Linked DNA regions of Homo sapiens: regions 2, 3 and 4 are each reported to be linked to region 1. The links are microRNA targets in miRTarBase. Many come from high-throughput screens and were not tested one by one. Region 1 holds a microRNA gene; each other region holds the end of a gene's coding sequence. Distances are from middle to middle.
The links. The annotated mature microRNA hsa-miR-548av-3p reads AAAACUGCAGUUACUUUUGC and lies in region 1 at 1,929-1,948, shown strand. An mRNA with a match to its seed (bases 2 to 7 or 8) in the 3' UTR can be bound and repressed. Matches are read on the target gene's strand: a 7mer-m8 pairs with bases 2 to 8, a 7mer-A1 pairs with bases 2 to 7 and ends in A, and an 8mer does both.

Region 2: the mRNA of SEC14L4 is a reported target of hsa-miR-548av-3p. Seed matches in the 3' UTR shown: 7mer-m8 at 2,865-2,871.
Region 3: miRTarBase lists E2F6 as a target of hsa-miR-548av-3p. Seed matches in the 3' UTR shown: 7mer-A1 at 1,706-1,712 and 7mer-A1 at 2,418-2,424.
Region 4: miRTarBase lists DNAJB14 as a target of hsa-miR-548av-3p. Seed matches in the 3' UTR shown: 7mer-A1 at 3,503-3,509, 7mer-m8 at 3,027-3,033 and 7mer-A1 at 1,536-1,542.

Annotation. Positions count from the first base shown.
Region 1 is chr4:76,573,671-76,577,670 of GRCh38, forward strand. MIR548AH (microRNA 548ah) reads left to right here and starts at 1,881; the gene lies at 1,881-1,956. The region is part of intron 2 of SHROOM3 (shroom family member 3); the gene reads left to right.
Region 2 is chr22:30,486,636-30,490,860 of GRCh38, forward strand. SEC14L4 (SEC14 like lipid binding 4) reads right to left here. Exons shown (of 12, transcript NM_174977.4): 12 at 2,267-3,611. The coding sequence ends at 3,472. Among named protein-coding and RNA genes, the nearest start is that of SEC14L3, 17 kb to the left of the region's middle.
Region 3 is chr2:11,442,904-11,447,128 of GRCh38, reverse strand. E2F6 (E2F transcription factor 6) reads left to right here. Exons shown (of 7, transcript NM_198256.4): 7 at 606-2,754. The coding sequence ends at 652. Among named protein-coding and RNA genes, the nearest start is that of E2F6, 21 kb to the left of the region's middle.
Region 4 is chr4:99,897,108-99,901,332 of GRCh38, forward strand. DNAJB14 (DnaJ heat shock protein family (Hsp40) member B14) reads right to left here. Exons shown (of 8, transcript NM_001031723.4): 8 at 1-4,045. The coding sequence ends at 3,921. Among named protein-coding and RNA genes, the nearest start is that of LAMTOR3, 4.8 kb to the left of the region's middle.

The sequences.
Region 1 (4,000 bases):
CTGAATCCTGCAGCTGGTAAATCCATGGTCAGCCATGGCCTGGGCAATGCCCCTGGGATTGCTGGCAACCCCACACTTACAGATTCAGTCTCTGCTCAGCTCCCCTTAGCTTCAGACAACTTAGCATCTGCCAAACTCTCATCCCAGCAACTCCTGACCCAGGGCCCATCCTAGGATCATCTCACCCCACCATAGTTGCCTCCTTGCAAGTCTGCTGGTTGCCGTCTGATGTCTGAGATTCTTCCTTCTGTCTGGACCTCTAGAGACCTCGAAATTGAGCCAGGCCAGACCTACTCCAGTGACCTTCTCCTAGGGTCTCAAATGGTGCAGTGGAGCCAGGGTTCCCTGAGCCCTTTGACATTCTCCTCACTTAGCTCACACACTTTCCCTCTCCTCCCTGAGGCTAGAAGAGAAATCAGAACTTGGTCCTCACAGCTTGACTTGCCACCATCTTTTCCCTCATTTCCACAAGTTGCTGGGATCTTGAGGGCTGGGTTTTCTCACTATTTCTCACTCTTCTCTGTGCTTCCCTACTTCTATAACTTCAAGCTTCTTGTCTTAGTTGGGAGGGGTATCTTCTTTGCACGATGGGAAAATTTTGGCAATTAGAATCCTCTAGGCCTCACCCTGGATAGGTTACAATGGTTGTCAAAAGTGTGATCATGCCCAGGAACTTCTGGAAAATACAAATTCCCAGGCCCTGCTCTAAGCCTAATGAATTGGGAACTCTGGAGTTTGAGCCTAGCAATCTGATTTACCAAGTCTTCCCCATGATTCTGATGCACCCTAAAGAACCATGGCATTAAATATTTCAGCAAATTCTCTCTCTCCCTCTCTACCAACGCCTTTCTTACCATTTTTCATGCCTAAACTCTTATTAGACAGACCGGATACTCCCTCTTAATCTAATTGATTGATTAGCTACATAAACTCAAATCATTTTGTGATTAAAAAAAGAAATGTATAGCCTTAAAAGCAAAGGAAATTCTGATATATGCTACAACATGGATGAACCCTAAGGACATTATGCTAAGTGAAATAAGCCAGTCACAAAAAGACAAATACTGTAAATGATTCCACTTGTATAAGGTACCCAGGGTAGTCAAATTCATACACAAAAAATGTAGAATGGCAGTTGCCACAGGTTGGGGGAGGGGAGATTAGGGAGTTTTGTTGAGTAGGTACAGAGTTTCAGTTCTGCGAGATGAAAAGAGTTCTGGACATTGGATCTACAAAAATGGGAATATACTTAATGCCACTGAAGTGCACCCTTAAAAAACGGGTATACCAGCAAACCAAATTCAATAGTACACCAACAAGATCATTCATCACAACCAAGCGGGATTTATCTCTGGGATGCAAGGATGGCTCAACATATATAAATCAATCAATACTATATATCTTCTCAATAGAATGAAGAACAAAACCAGATGATCATTTCAAGTGAAGCTGAAAAAGCATTTGATCCTTTCATGATAAACATCCCTTCATGATAAAAGTCCTTCAAAAAACTGGGTATAGGAGAAACATACTTCAACATAATAAAAGCCATAGATGACAGACCCACAACTAGTATCACACTGAATGGGAAAAAAATTGAAAGCCTTTCCTCTAAGATCTGAAGCACAACAAGGCTACCCACTTTCACTACTGGTATTCAACATAGTACTGGAAGTCCTAGCTAGAGCAATTAGACAAGAGAAAGAAAAGGCATCCAAACTGAAAAGGAAGAAAGCAAATTATTTTTATTTGCAGATAAGATGATCTTATATTTGGAAAAACCTAAAGACTCCACCAAAAAAACTAGCAGAATTGATAAACAAATTCAGTCAAGTCACAGGATACAAAATCAACATACCAAAATCAGCAGCATTTCTATTAGGTTGGTGCAAAAGTGATTGCAGTGTTTGCCAATAAAAGTAATGACAAAAACTGCAGTTACTTTTGCACCAGCCCAATATATGCCAACAGTGAACAATCTGAACAAGAAATTTAAAAAGTAATCCCATTTACAATAGCCACAAATAAAATTAAATACCCAGGAATTAACCAAATAAGTGAAAGATCTCTATAATAAAAACTATTAATATAATACACTGATGAAAGGAGTTGAAGAAGATACAAAAAATGGAAAGATATTCCATGTTCACAAATTGCAAGAATCAATATTGTTAAACTTCTCAAAAGAAGACATATAAATGGCAAACAGATATATGAAAATGTGCTCAACATCATTGATTATTAGAGAAACGCAAATCTAAACTACAATGAGATATTATATCATCCCACCCCCGTTAAAATGGCTTATATCCAAAAGACAGGCAGTAACAAATCCTAGTGAGGATGTGGAGAAAAGGGAACCCTCGTACAGTGTTGGTAGGAATGCAAATTAGTACAACCACTACGGAGAACAGTTCAAGGTTTCTCAAAAACCTAAAAAGAAAGCTACCATACGATCCAGCAATCCCACTATGGGGTATATACCCCAAAGAAAGGAAATCAGTACCTCTAAGAGGTATCTGGACTCCTGTGTTTGTTGCAACATTCTTTACAATAGCTAAGATTTGGAAGCAACTTAAGTGTCCATCAACAGATGAATGGATAAAGAAAATGTGGTACTTACACACAATGGAATATTATTCAGCCATTTAAAAAAATGAGATCCTGCCATTTGCAACAACATAGATCAAACTGGAGATCACTATGTTAAGTGAATTGAGCCAGGCACAGAAAGACAAACTTTGCATATTCTCACTTGTTTGTGGGATCTAAAAATCAAAACAATGGAACTCATGGACACAGAGAGTAGAAGGATGGTTACAGAGGCTGGGAAGGGTAGTAGGAGGCTGGTGGGGAGGTAGGGATGGTTAATGCATACAAAAAGGTAGGATGACTAATACCTACTCTTTGATAGCACAACAAGGTGACTATAATCCATAATAATGTAATTGTACATTTAAAAATAACTAAAATCGTGTAGTTGGGTAGTTTGTAACACAAAAGATAATGGCTTGAGGAGATGGATACCCCATTCTTCATGATGTGATTATTATGTGTTGCATGCCTGTATCAAAACATCTCACGTACCCCATAAATGTATACACCTACTTTATAACCACAAAAATTAAAAATTAAAATGTTAAAATAAAAAATGGGTAAGATGGTAAATTTTGTTATAAATATTTTTAATTTTTAAATTAAATTTTTAAAAATAAAAATAAAGGACTTTGGTGATTAAAGCAAAAATAAAAACTGGGTTAAAAACAGTTTAAGCAATAGGTATTGATTTGGTGAATGGTGACATGGCCAACTCAGCTGATTATTCATTGAACGTAATCCTGGAGGTTAGGGTTCAGAACTGAATACTGGAACAAATGCTCCTGGTAAACATGAGTATTTCACCAAACCTTAATTGAATTTCTGATCTACCTAAAGTATAAGAAGGAGCTGGTCAAATAGATCTGACTCTAGCGTTCCAAAAGGGTAATCGGTGTCAGTGTGTCTGTTGAGATAAAAGATAATCTATACTTGAAATTTTCGCATATCACAGGCTAAAAAGCCCTCTGTGTAAATTAATTCCTAGTGGTCTATATCTTTCTACATTAAAAATATGGGCAAATCAAATTTCCCCATCCACCAAAGGGACGAGGTGCTGGGGAAGGTCTGATTGTTTACTCTTTACTGTGTATTGTTGTCAGCAGTACATTGGTTAACTAGGAATTATTCTAAGTCCCTTCATTGCCCTGTTCTTCCAATCATTTGGCATCAGGTGAATGGTTCCAGCCTCCCTAGAGGCAGCAATAAAGGACAGGGACTGGTATTGGAAGATGGTGGGGCTGTAGACCAATACCTCTGCCTCCTGTATTATTTGTCTACCCAATAAAATAATATTCTTTAATATAACAATTCACGTTTATCAATCTTGTTAAAGGATGAATTAAAGAATCTTTAGAAAAATGCTCCAGTCTAGGTAAAATCTGAACTTATTATGCGTAACACA
Region 2 (4,225 bases), not on the chromosome of region 1:
CTGCCCTCCTCACCTGCTTCTCCCCAAAGACTGTGGGGACTTCCAGGGAGGAGATGGGCTAGGGAGAGCAGGTCCCACCTCCATTATCTGGACAGGTGAGGCCTGGGTATTTCCAATTGCCTCATTTTGAGCAAGAGTTTTGATCTGTGGCCTCCTGCCAAGATTTTGCCATTCTTTCCTGACAAACTACACGGCTGTTTTGTAACCGGCATTATAAAATGGTTTTATTAATTATTAATAACTATTTAATGTGTACACAGTTATCCATGAAGAAATAGGAAATACCAGTGAGTTGTTACCAGCGTTGCCCCAGGCTGGGAGAGCCCTTCCAGCTTTCCTTTGGCCTCTGACACCCCTGCCCCACTGACCGCCCACCCCCCATTCCTGTCTGGAAGGCTCGCCTGCCATCATCCCGCACATCCGACAGCTCTCCCTTCAGGGTCACCTCCTCCTTGGACAAAGCATACGTGACCCCTTGTCAGGTTTCTTGGCTGGGTGCTCCCCCAGAGTTTGGCTCCTGCCCCCAACCAAGCATGCATGGTGACAATGCACCCACTTGATAACTGATCACTGGTGTCACTTCCACCTCCCTCCCTCCATGAGCGCAAACCTCCGGTTAATACAGTTGGGTCAGCCCAGGGTCCTCGGTGTCCCCAGAGTCTGCCATGCCTGGTGCTGGGCAGATACTCAATAAACACCCAAAATCAGGCCGGGCTCAGTGGCTCACACCTGTGACCTCAGCACTTTGGGAAGCTGAGGCAGGGAGGATGGCTTGAGCCTAGAAGTTCAAGACCAGCCTGGGCAACATAGCAAGACCCCTGTCTCTACTTTTTTTTCTTTTTTTTTTTGAGACGGAATCTCGCTCTGTCGCCCAGGCTGGAGTGCAGTGGCGTGATCTCGCCTCACTGCAAGCTCCGCCTCCAGATTCACGTCATTCTCCTGCCTCAGCCCCTCGAGTAGCTGGGACTACAGGTGCCCGCCATCACGCCCAGCTAATTTTTTGTATTTTTAGTAGAGACAGGGTTTCACCGTGTTAGCCAGGATGGTCTCCATCTCCTGATCTCGTGATCTGCCCGCCTCGGCCTCCCAAAGTGCTGGGATTACAGGCGTGAGCCACCGCGCCCGGCCTGTCTCTACTTTTAAAAAATTAAATTAAATTAAATTAATATCAATGAGTGAATAAATGAAGAAACAAACTTTGGGCAAGCCACTGCCCCTCTCTGGGTGACTTTTTTTTTTCAGTTTTGTAAAAAAGTGACAGTGTTAAAAATTAGACATGGAGGCCAGGCATGGTGGCTCATACCTGTAATCCCAGCACTTTGGGAGGCTGAGCCAGGCAGATCACTTGAGGTCAGGGGTTTGAGATCAGCCTGGCCAACATGGTGAAACCCCATCTCTACTAAAAATACAAAAATCAGCCAGGTGTGGTGGTGCATGTCTGTAGTCCCAGCTACTCGGGAGGCTGAGGTGGGAGAATCGCTTGAACCTGGGAGGTGAATGTTGTAGTGAGCTGAGATCGCGCCACTGTACTCCAGTCTAGGCAACAGAGACTCTATCTCAGAAAAGAAAAGAAAAAAAATAATTGGAAATGGGTTGCTGAGGACATGTGCCCCTGCTCCCTGCTGAGCTCCCAGTGTGCCCCTCCCCTCCTGAATTGGTAGGAGATTCTGCTCTCACCTCTGCAGGCGATCACTGCTCACTGCAATTCAGTCACTAGTGCCTGCACCTGACCCCATTTTTGTTTGCCACCCCCGCAGCCAGCCCGTATTTGTGATCACGGCCCTGTGATCAGAGTCTCAGGAAACACTTGTGCATGGGGCAGAGCAATCCTTGCTGCCTGCAAGGAAACCAGACAAGGCTGTGCTGATGGAAAATCGGCTGTAGTTACATGGGCAAGAATCAGAGTTCAAGTCTAGGAACCCCTGGTTTTTAGGCAGAGGACATCAAGGCAGAGGATGTCAAAGCTGAAGTGAGGCATTACAATCCCCCATCATGACAACCGGTGGGCCTTGTGAAATTTAGCACAGGTCCTCCCGGCTCCAGTTGGCCACAGCCTGCCATGGAAGCCCAAGTGCCTCTGGGCACTCCAAATATCACTGCATCTGGGAAAGCAGCAGACAGCGTGGCCATGCAGTGCAACAGGGTAGTGGGGATGCCTGTCACATCTCCGATGCAGAGGCAGCCCCTGGACATGGGGATGTCCTGTGACTCTTGCCCGACAGCCCAGGCCATCTCCTTGGAGCCAGCGCAGCCATTTTTTTTTTTTTTTTTTTTTTTGCCAATCTGCTCAAACACCCAGTTGGAACAGGAATGCCTCGTGGCACTGGCTTTAGGAGTTTAATCTAGATGGTTTGCTGTTTCTAGCAGCAGAGCACCTGTTCAGACTCTACGTATATGCACCCATGAATGGTGCAGCTGCCAAGAGAACCAAAGCTAAATGTTGGCAGGATCACAGCAGGTGTGGAGGGGAGGTCACTGGGAATTCCCTGGAGACTCAGTCGTTACCCACTCAACTGGAAGGCTGAGCATGGCTTTTTCCTCTGATGGTTACCCATGCCAGGCCCCACCTCTCCATGTCCAATGTTCTTTCTTTATTTGTTTGTTTGTTTGTTTGTTTGTTTAGAGACGGAGTCTGGCTCTGTTGCCCAGGCTGGAGTGCAGTGGCACGATCTCAGCTCACTACAACCTCCGCCTCCTGGGTACAAGCGATTCTCCTGCCTCAGCCTCCTGAGTAGCTGGGATTACAGGTGCACGCCACCATGCCCGGCTAATTTTTGTATTTTTAGTAGAGACAGGGTTTCACCATGTTGCCCAGGCTGGTCCCGAACTCCTGATCTCAGGTGATCTGCCCAACTCAGCCTCCCAAACTGCTGGGATTATAGGCGTGAGCCACCACGCCCAGTCCATTTCCAATTTTCCATCCAGTGGTGGCAGAACAAACTTGGATGGGCCCCAGTGCTCTGCTGGAACCAGGACCCTCACCCAGCTGCCTCCAGCTGGGCCTGCCCACCCCTGCTGACCTCCTACATGCAGAGAACAGGGCTTCTCTGCTCTTCAGGCCTGAAGCTGTGATGTCCACAGGACCTAGGAACCACGCACACCCCCTGAAGCTGGAACACCAGGCATGGGTGAGTCCTGGGTGGCTGGATCTTGTCAAGATGGGTGAAAGGGCAGCTTCTGCAAGCAGGACCCATCCTCAGTGGACTGGATCATCTTCAGCGTTCTCATTCTCAGCCGCATTCTCTGGGAACAGGGAAAGAGGTTCCTGTCTGAATCTTCAGCATGGGCTATGCACTGGTGGCCCCTTCCTGCTTGGCCACTGTGCCAGGTGAGCCTACAATGAGATGAAATGGTGACGTGGGACAAGTGGCTCTCTGCAGCCACCTCCAGCACCACCCTGCCTGGGAAGGCAGGGGTCAGAGGGGTGGGTGTGAAGGGGTTGGAGTGCACAGGTAGAGGTGGCTGGGGTCTTCACTGTGTTGGGGAGGGTCTCATCGCCTTGAGACTCTGCAGCGTCTCCTCAGAGGCCTTGTCGGGAAGCAGCACCTCCACAGTGTAGCTGAGCTTCTTGGCATGCATCCGGCTGTAGGTGTTGTCGAAGCGCAGGACATCTGCAGTGATGGAGAGGTGATCAGGGAGCACAAACCCCGCACATCTGCAGGAAGAGCCAGCCCTGCATGGGTGCATCCCTGGAACCCTTGGGAATGAGCTGCATCCCTGGAACGTCCTGCATCCCTGGAACCCTTGGAAATGAGCTGTCCAGGACAGTGGGTGGGGCCTGAGGGCCAGCCTGTGCCCAGCCCTAAGCCCATTGCTCGCTGCCATCTCCATGGTGGCTTGCGCTACATGAAGGAATCATGATGGTCATCAGCATATAGAACAGCACACAGCCAGGGAGCAGGCGGCCTGGGAACGGGATCTCGAGCTCCACCTGCAGGGAGGAGCTGTGGCCCACGGACACAGTATGCTCGTACTGCGTCCTCGCCTAGTTGCGGTTGCACAGGTAGCTCTTGGGCCTCTCCATGAACCATGGATTCCATCACACATTATAGCCCCTGAATCCTCAAAGCAGCCCCATGTGGAAGGCAATGTCATCCTCATTTTACAGAGGAGAAAACTGAGGCTTGGAGAGGTGATATGATCTTTCAGCGGTCACAGAGCAAGGGAGGGGAGGTACTGGGATTCCTTTATCCAGATGTCCCAACCCAGGGAGGAGCCCTGCTAC
Region 3 (4,225 bases), not on the chromosome of region 1:
AACCCAGCTTGCAGTGCTGTCCAACAGCAGATCCCAAATAGTGGAATTGCCTGAGCAGGGGACCAGCATCCTGTGACCGGCCTGGGCAGAAGCCATCACAGTACCCAGCCAACAGCTCCACCGACATCCGAACAAAGACCCAGCCAACTGGAGAACTTGACAAGCACTGCGGGCCAGGGTGGTCTTCAGGTGGCCCTTGCAGAGCCACAGGCTGGACCGATAGGAAGCTTTCACTGACGAAGAATACCTGTAATGACCAGAAGAGGGGGCTGTTGCCCACATGCAGACAACAGCACAAAGACACAAGGATTACGAAGACTGGGGGAGTCGTGACGGCTCCAAAAGAAACTAATAAAGCCCTAATAAGGGAAGGTTTCCTCCATTCTCGGACGGGTGCTTTCAGGTACAAGTTAGAGTTCCAGTTTATTCTTGAGAGGCTGAAAAAATTAGCCTTATGCCATTAACCTGAGAATACGTGTTCTTGACCAGGCATCTTCAGGGTTTTCTGAAGTAGTCAGATTGTGTATTCTTTTACGTATTTGCCTATCAGACCTTCACTTAGGTGTATTCACTTAGGTGTATTTCTCTCTCGTGTTCTTTTCCAGAAGAAAATCCTCAGCAAAGTGAAGAATTGCTTGAAGTAAGCAACTGATGGCATTTGAGAATTTATGTATCACTGAGTTTTTTGGGAATATCTTCGTGGAGAATTACGCATCAAATTTGATTCTCAGAGCAATAAATTATCCATGAAGTGCTCTCGTTCTCAGTAGCGGCATCATGGCCAGTAGTGTCTTTGAGGAGTTCACCACTTAGATTACTGAGTAATTGTGGTTTCCACATTTGAAAACAACTCCTTTTATAATTATTCACTGCTTTTTGTCAGTGAAATAGACATCTTGCCTCCTGAAGTAGCTTCATCACAGAGTGTCATGAAGACAGACAGTCAGGCTGAAATGGACAGTTCTTTGTGGACTCTACCCTTCCCTTCAAGGAGTATGTCATATATCACAAAAGAAATTGCCTTACACTGGTTCATGTTTGCAGTTACTGTTGTACATTGCATAGATGTACACACGAATTTAAATGTGATGTCTTTGTATATATCTGTATAATGTTGAGATTACTTACGAAATATGTCTGAGTGACACTTTTCACCCTTGTACAGCCAAAATAATGTATATATGGAAAGTGACAGACAAATTCTCTAATCTCTTTGGTACCTATAACTTATTAGAATCCTCTGGATGAGGGTTAGAAGAGACTTTTTCCAAACTTCTACATGTAGAAGTATCATAAATGTGCTACACATTTATGTTTGTGGATTTAATTAAAGTATTTTAATATGGTTTTCAGTGCTAAAATTGGAGTCAGATACTTCTTGGTTTTAAGCTGTCTACCTAATTGCTGTCTCCCAGCAGACTGGTGGCATGCCCAGTGGCTTTGGGGGCAAGGATAGAAATGCCATCAGGAAATAGCTGAATTCATTGTGAAACATGAATTCAGTCATGGTGATAATTGGAAACTCCTTTCAGGTTTTTGCAAGTAGATTTTGTAATGTTTGTGTATGCAGCCTTGCTGTTGAGTCAGTCCAAGGGGTTTTACTTAGGACAAGTTGTACCTTGCCCTCTCTCCAGCTCTGCTCCCACATTTTCACATACCTAGCTGTTTCTACCTCATTGGGTAAGTCATTTACCACTCTGTGCCTCAGTTTACTCTGTAGTTTACCATTAGACTGTGAGCTCCTTGAGGGACTTTGTCATAATCACTGTTACATCCCAGTGCCTCACACCATGCCTGGCCCTTAAGAAGTGCTCAATAAATGTCTGAACAAATAAGTGAGTGGAGTGAGTGAATTGTAAGATCAGAATAATAATATTTGGTTTGTCTATCGTACAAGATTCCTGTATCGTTTGAATATTGCTTTTAAAGAAATATTTGAAGCGACTTCAAATTCAGACTGTGTTTAAAAAGATTTAAAATCGGAATCCAAAATCAAAGTATTAAAAAATAATGCTGAGTGTTTAGGATTCACATACCTCTGAGCTCTGGTGGCTTTTGCCAGTCCTGTCCCTCTGCTGAGCACCAGCCCTTCCTGCAGCAGTCCTGCCGGTGTGTTTCTGTGCACCTGGGGATGAAGTGTGCTCCTCCCCCAGCGGTTAGCCTCAATGCTTTTCCTCCCTCTGTTTTATTATTTGAAATTAGCCAAAGAAAAGCTGCAGGGGGCACTGCTGATCATCACTGGACTGGTGGGTCGTACTGTTTGACAGAATAGGGAATACAGGAGGAGGAGCAAGCCTAGGGTAAAACTTAGGTTTGGGACATGCTTGATGAAAGCAAGAGTTGAGCAGGTTGTTGTGTGTATGTAGGTCAGGTGCTCAGCGGAAAAGTCTGAGCTGTGTAGTACGTCAGGCAGATGTCAGTTTAGATGCGATAGTTTAAGCCACAAGAGTAGGAGAGGTCATCTAAAGAGTACAGCAGGCCTAAGGGCATCTATATTTAAGGAGAAATACAGAAGAAGTCTCCTGAGAAGGAATAATGGGGCGGGTGGGGAGGGAGAAGGCAGTGTCCCAAAAACCAACAAAGGTTTTACCAAAGGTAATACCATCATTTCTGAGCAGCAGTTCCTTAACTTGTGAATGTGGCAAATGTTCTCCTTTACAAATTGTTCTGAAGGTAAAATGAGATCATGTAAACGAAAATCCTTTGTAAATTACAGATGTGTGTTATAAATGAAGTATCTCTCGAGTCACTCCATCTTCTGGCGTTGGGTCTCTGATTCTTAAAACGGATAAAATAAGCATGAACTCGTTTCTGGGCCCCTCCTCCTCACTAACCCTAACCTTTCCAACCTCACTGTCCCATCTCTGTGCGCACCGCTTCTTCCTTCAGAAACCTTGAGCGATCCGTGTTTCCTTCAGGCCGAAGTGCAGACTCTGGATATAGAAGGGCCCAAGGCTTGCTTACCAATCCTGCCTTGGTACCTGCCTTGCAGACCTTCACCCCAGTAAATTGGTCTCATCGCTACCTGAAGCACACAGTGAACTTTCCCATCTCCCTGCCTTTGCTCTTATCCTATCCTCTTCCTGTTCTCTGTGTTTCAAAATCGCATCCCTATTCTGGACCTGGCTTCACCCATGCCTCCCCTTTACTCCTACCCTGCATGCAGTTTATACACAGCACGCAGGTGGCCATCTTCCTTCCTCATAAGTTGCTGCGGCTACGTTCCCAGCTGCCATTCCATGTTGTCAGAGTGTAAGCTCATGTCTTAATAGGTATTTCTCATATTAATGTAGTGTATGATAGGGTTTGGCTGTGTCCCCACCCAAATCTCATTTTGAATTGCAGTTCCCATAATCCCCATGTGTCGTGGGAGGGACCAGGTGGAGATAACTGAATCATGGGAGCTGTTTCCCTACATCCTGTTCTCGTGATAGTAAGTTCTCACGAGATCTAATGGTTTAATAGAGGGCTTTTCCCTTCGCTCGGCTCTCATTCTCCCTCCTGCCACCATATGAAGAAAGACGTATTTGCTTCCTCTTCCACCATGATTGTAAGTTTCCTGAGCCAGCCATGCTGAACTATGAGTCAATTAAATCTGTTTCCATTATAAATTACCCAGCCTTGGGTATGTCTTTGTTAGCAGTTTGAGAATGGACTAATACAGTAAATTGGTACCACAGAGAGTGGGGTGCTGCTGTAAAGATACCCAAAAATGTGGAAGCAACTTTGGAACTGAGTAACAGGCAGAGGTTGGAACAGTTTGGAGGGTTCAGAAGAAGACAGGAAAATGTGGGAAACATTTAGAACTTCCTAGAGACTTGTTGAATAGCTTTGACAAATTGCTGATAGTGATATGGACAGTGAAGTCCAGGCTGAAGTGGTCAAGATGGAGATGAAGAACCTATTGGAAGCGGGAGTAAAGGTCACTCTTGCTATGGAAAGAGACTGGTAGCATTTTGCCTCTGCCGTAGAGATGCATGGAACTTTGAGAGAGATGAGTTAGGGTATCTGGCAGAAGAAATTTCTAAGCAGCAAAGTGTTCGAGAGGAAGCAGAGCATAAAAGTTTGGAAAATTTTGCAGCCTGATGATGGGATAGAAAAGAAAACTCCATTTTCTGGGGAGAAATTTAAGCTGGCTGCAGAAATTTGCATAAGTAACGTCAAATGTTAATCACCAAGAGAATGGGGAAGATGTCTCCAGGGCATGTCAGAGACCTTCCAGCAG
Region 4 (4,225 bases), 23 Mb from region 1:
ACTGCTAATGGAAGCCCTGCTCTGTGCAAACATAGTGTGGTATATATTAAACAATCACACATTTGAGGTAATTAGCTGGGAAAAAAAAAAAAAAATATATATATATATATATACACCTATACATAGACACATCCACAGAATATTCACAAATCTATTGGCCCCAACACCAGCAGATAGTCATATTAAATGAAAAATATCACATACCAACAGGAAAAAGTTACACATAGGGAATATACAAAAAATATGGTGCTATAATCCTTAATATAAGGAGTATGTTTTGAATTAATGTTTTGAGGAAAAGTGTTTCCATTTATATGAAAGTATCTATTTAATAGTAATAAAACCAAAAAGGAAGCTGAATTCTAGGACTGTTTTACCTGCCAAATAATTGAAGGGATGAGCAAGAATTCCTTGAAAAGCCTCATTCTATCCTTTTTCTTTGTAACTAAAAATTAGAATTTAAAATGTTGGAAATTATTGCCAGACAAGTTTCTTTTCATTGGTTTATAGGGAATTTTATGGATTTTAACTAGGCAATGGTCCAATGTGGTCAACAGACATGGTTTTTCAGCTGTTGAATGAAAATTAAAATAAAGATTTATTGTTGATTTTCATTAGTTTTTCTGTTCAGATAAGAAAAAAGATTATGAATTCCCTTTCAGTTTGCTTCACTCATTATGAAGATGGATAGTAATAGGATAGTACTGAACCCAAGCTTCACATGGGGAAGCTCAAGAAATGTACAAATTCTCTTCTTAACCATTTGGTCCTCTGATATAAAACTTGCTTAACTGGCAAGATGGCTCACTTGGTCCTCAAGCCAACATCAAGAAATATTTAGCTGTCTTAACACAGGTGGGAGACTTTTTTTTAATGAAATACATAGGAATCCATTAAGTAACATTAGCATGTCATGTGTTAAATAGCTTCATTTAAAAATGTTACAGATCAACAGAAGGGAAATCAAAAACTTATTTTTCTCAGTAACTACTTTACATACTAGTGTAATTAAAGGTTTAACTGGAAGAAAAATTCAGCATAAAAGTATAATTAAAGTAAAAAGCTGGTATTCCACATTCCTGTTCCTATGAACACCTGAGCTGGCACAAAAGCTGAGTAGTTTAATGCATTGGCATATATATGCCTTAAGGACTGTACTTTTCTCTACCAAATCTTTGTAAATCATAAACAAGCATGTAATGATTATGAAACAAATACTTATTTAGGTGTTCAAATGTAATCTGTTTACAAAATATATTATTTTCACTTATTAGATGAATTCAACTTGACATTTTTCATTGCTGAGAATTCAGTTCACATTTAATCAAACTACATTTCGAAATTTACAGATGACTAAATGACTAGCACCAGTCTATTTGGGAACTAAGGAATCAAAAGAAGAGGAGAAAGGTACTATTTTTCATTTCCCCCAAACCCTCACAAGGACAATAATGTTTGTGTGTATATGCATGGGTGTATTTGTGTTTACACAAAAAGGGGTAAAAATGTAAAGCATTAATAAATATAAGTGCTGCTAAACTGTTAGAATACCAGTTAGAGGAGCTAATAAAGCAATATTCAAAGATTGAGGACTTTTAGGTGGTCATTAGAATGAGCCGATGAAATTGCGAAGTTCATGTAGCTAAACATAAGATGGCAAAATGTTGGGATTTTTATTATAAAAAAAGCAGCAAACATGAAAATCTTTTATCAAGATATCCAAACTCTTCTTACTTTATAAAGTTAACTCCAAATTATAAGATACTTGTTGAGCTTTTATACCATGATATAGATGACATTAAGGACTGAATCTTTACTTGCATACTTCATATGTGGCTTAAATTGTCAGGCACTCAGTCTGTCATTTCTCACTGCAGAAAATTTTATCAAACACATTTTCCCTAGCATTTTATGAAATTTAATGGAATGCAGCACTGCAACTGAAATATAATACTGTCCAAAAGCCATGTATGACTTTATAATATATACTTTATGGTATCACTTAACTTTGTACAATAACTTCACCTATCTCCTTAAAGCTGGGATTAAGGGAAAAAGAATCAGTCAACAAGAAGGTAAGTTCACAGAATTATCAGCCATAATAGTGTAAATTTGCCATTAAAATTAGAAAAATAAATAGATGAAATTTTTTTCATTCAAATTTTCATAAATTTTCTGATGCATATGAACTTTCAAAGTTAATTAAAATGCTATGAACTTATATTTTTAAAAACTTACTCTGCAGGCTCAACAAAATAATTAAAATTGTATTTTCTCTTAAGCACTGCTTTTTTTTTTTTTTTAAGGTAACATTTCTAAGAGCAAGTTGGTTAAGCTCTCCAGTTTTCCTATGACAGTATGTTGTTTAGTTTAACCTACTAATTCAATCAGGCATTTCTATTGATTCACCTGGAAAAGGGGATACAACAGAACATTTTTAAGAGGTCATTTTAGCAGTTTTATTCAACAGATGCCATAAATTAACTACATTCAGGAAAAAAAACTTAAACAAAGAACAAAGCCACCCTATCTAGCATTCTCTCACTCACAAAGAAGTATCAAAGATATGTTTATGTTCCATTAACCGAGTATGAAGCAAAATCATTAAAATATTACAACTGCTAAACACAGAAGACTAGAAATCAAATAGTTTCATATCCAGTATACAGGCATCAAAAACTTCAATTTCCAGCTGTTTTTTTTTTCTAATTCATATCATGGATTTACTTACAAGGAGCTTATTCCTATGGGATTAATTCAATTACTCAATGGTAAATAGATTTTAGCTCAGAATTTTTAAAGGATGACTTGCTTTAAGTTACTATTCTACGTGCTGCTCTATTTCTGCTCACACTTGCATGTGGCCAAACAGATCATGCTCTGATCAGATAAGTATACTGTAATCTACTTATATGTTTAGGAGTTGGCATAGGGTTAAAAGGCACAAAGCTGTATTTTAGTACTCATTTTTCTTATTACTTATTTGTAAAGGAACTTCTTTGGATCCTGCTTAAATGATCACCAAGAAACTGCAAATTTCTATGGGGGAAAATGTGAGTCCTCTTCATAAATTTTAGCAGCCCTTCAAGGACATATACATCAAAATTTGGTGGCCTTTAAAGTATTGGAATTTTAAATGACATAACTGCACTTTACTGTTGAAGACCCTTTTAGTTTAATATTTATAGCCATTTCCTCATATTTTCTTTAAAATTTATCAGTATAGCATTTCATTTCTATGCATGTATATGTATAGTAATTCATAAAACTAAATAGCAAACTGATATTCTACACCAGTTCATTTATCTCAATATATATTTTGGAATATAACGGCAATATTAAAAATATCAATTCCCTCTAAGCTGATAATACTATAAGATTTTACACAAAGTTAAAGTTTTTGTTTTTTCTTTTTGAAAAAGTTTCATTGTTTAAAGTCCACATATTTGACACCTTGATAAGGAAAATGTAAATGTGTCATATAACATTTATTCCATCAATTTAAACTGAAGTGTCTCATGGAGCTAAACACTAAAAGAATTTAAATAAAAAAGCAGTAACCTGTATGTACACAAAATGATCATTCCATAAATATTTACATGACAAGGGAAAAAATGGAGAATCACTAAAACTGGAAATTGCTACAGGTGTGATAATCCTTTCTCATGACACTTTAGTTAGGAATCATGTAAGCTTTTAAAATGAAAATACTTGTAGAAGCGTTAACTAAAATATTCCATTTTAGTTTTCAGTTACTATTTAAAGGAGCCAGTAGGTCATAAACAGTCCAAGATTTCAGGAACCAACTATTCAGTTTAGTTTTCAGTATCAAATCTTTTCCTTCATCCCTCATGATGAAACCAAACTTACTTACAGAAAAAATAAAGAGTACGCTAAAAGGTATAAATAAAAATTCCAGTTCATCCTCCTTTATAAAGACTGGTAAGCCGCTCTAATTCTTTACAGTTGTCCATGCTCAAGGCATCTGCCTTCCTTCGGAGTCGATCATCACGGTATACTTTTGCTGCATACTGCATATCTGTTTCTGTTAATAAAGAAAAATATTTTGCTAATTGAATAAAATTTTTGTCACCTAGTTGCTTAAGCTCAAGTGATGCTTTACAGGAGCCCTTTGATATATTTTGATTAACTGACTTAAAAAAAATCAAAGTACAATTCCTAAAAGCCATTTTAGTAGGAAAAAAATTTTAATGAAAACTTTATT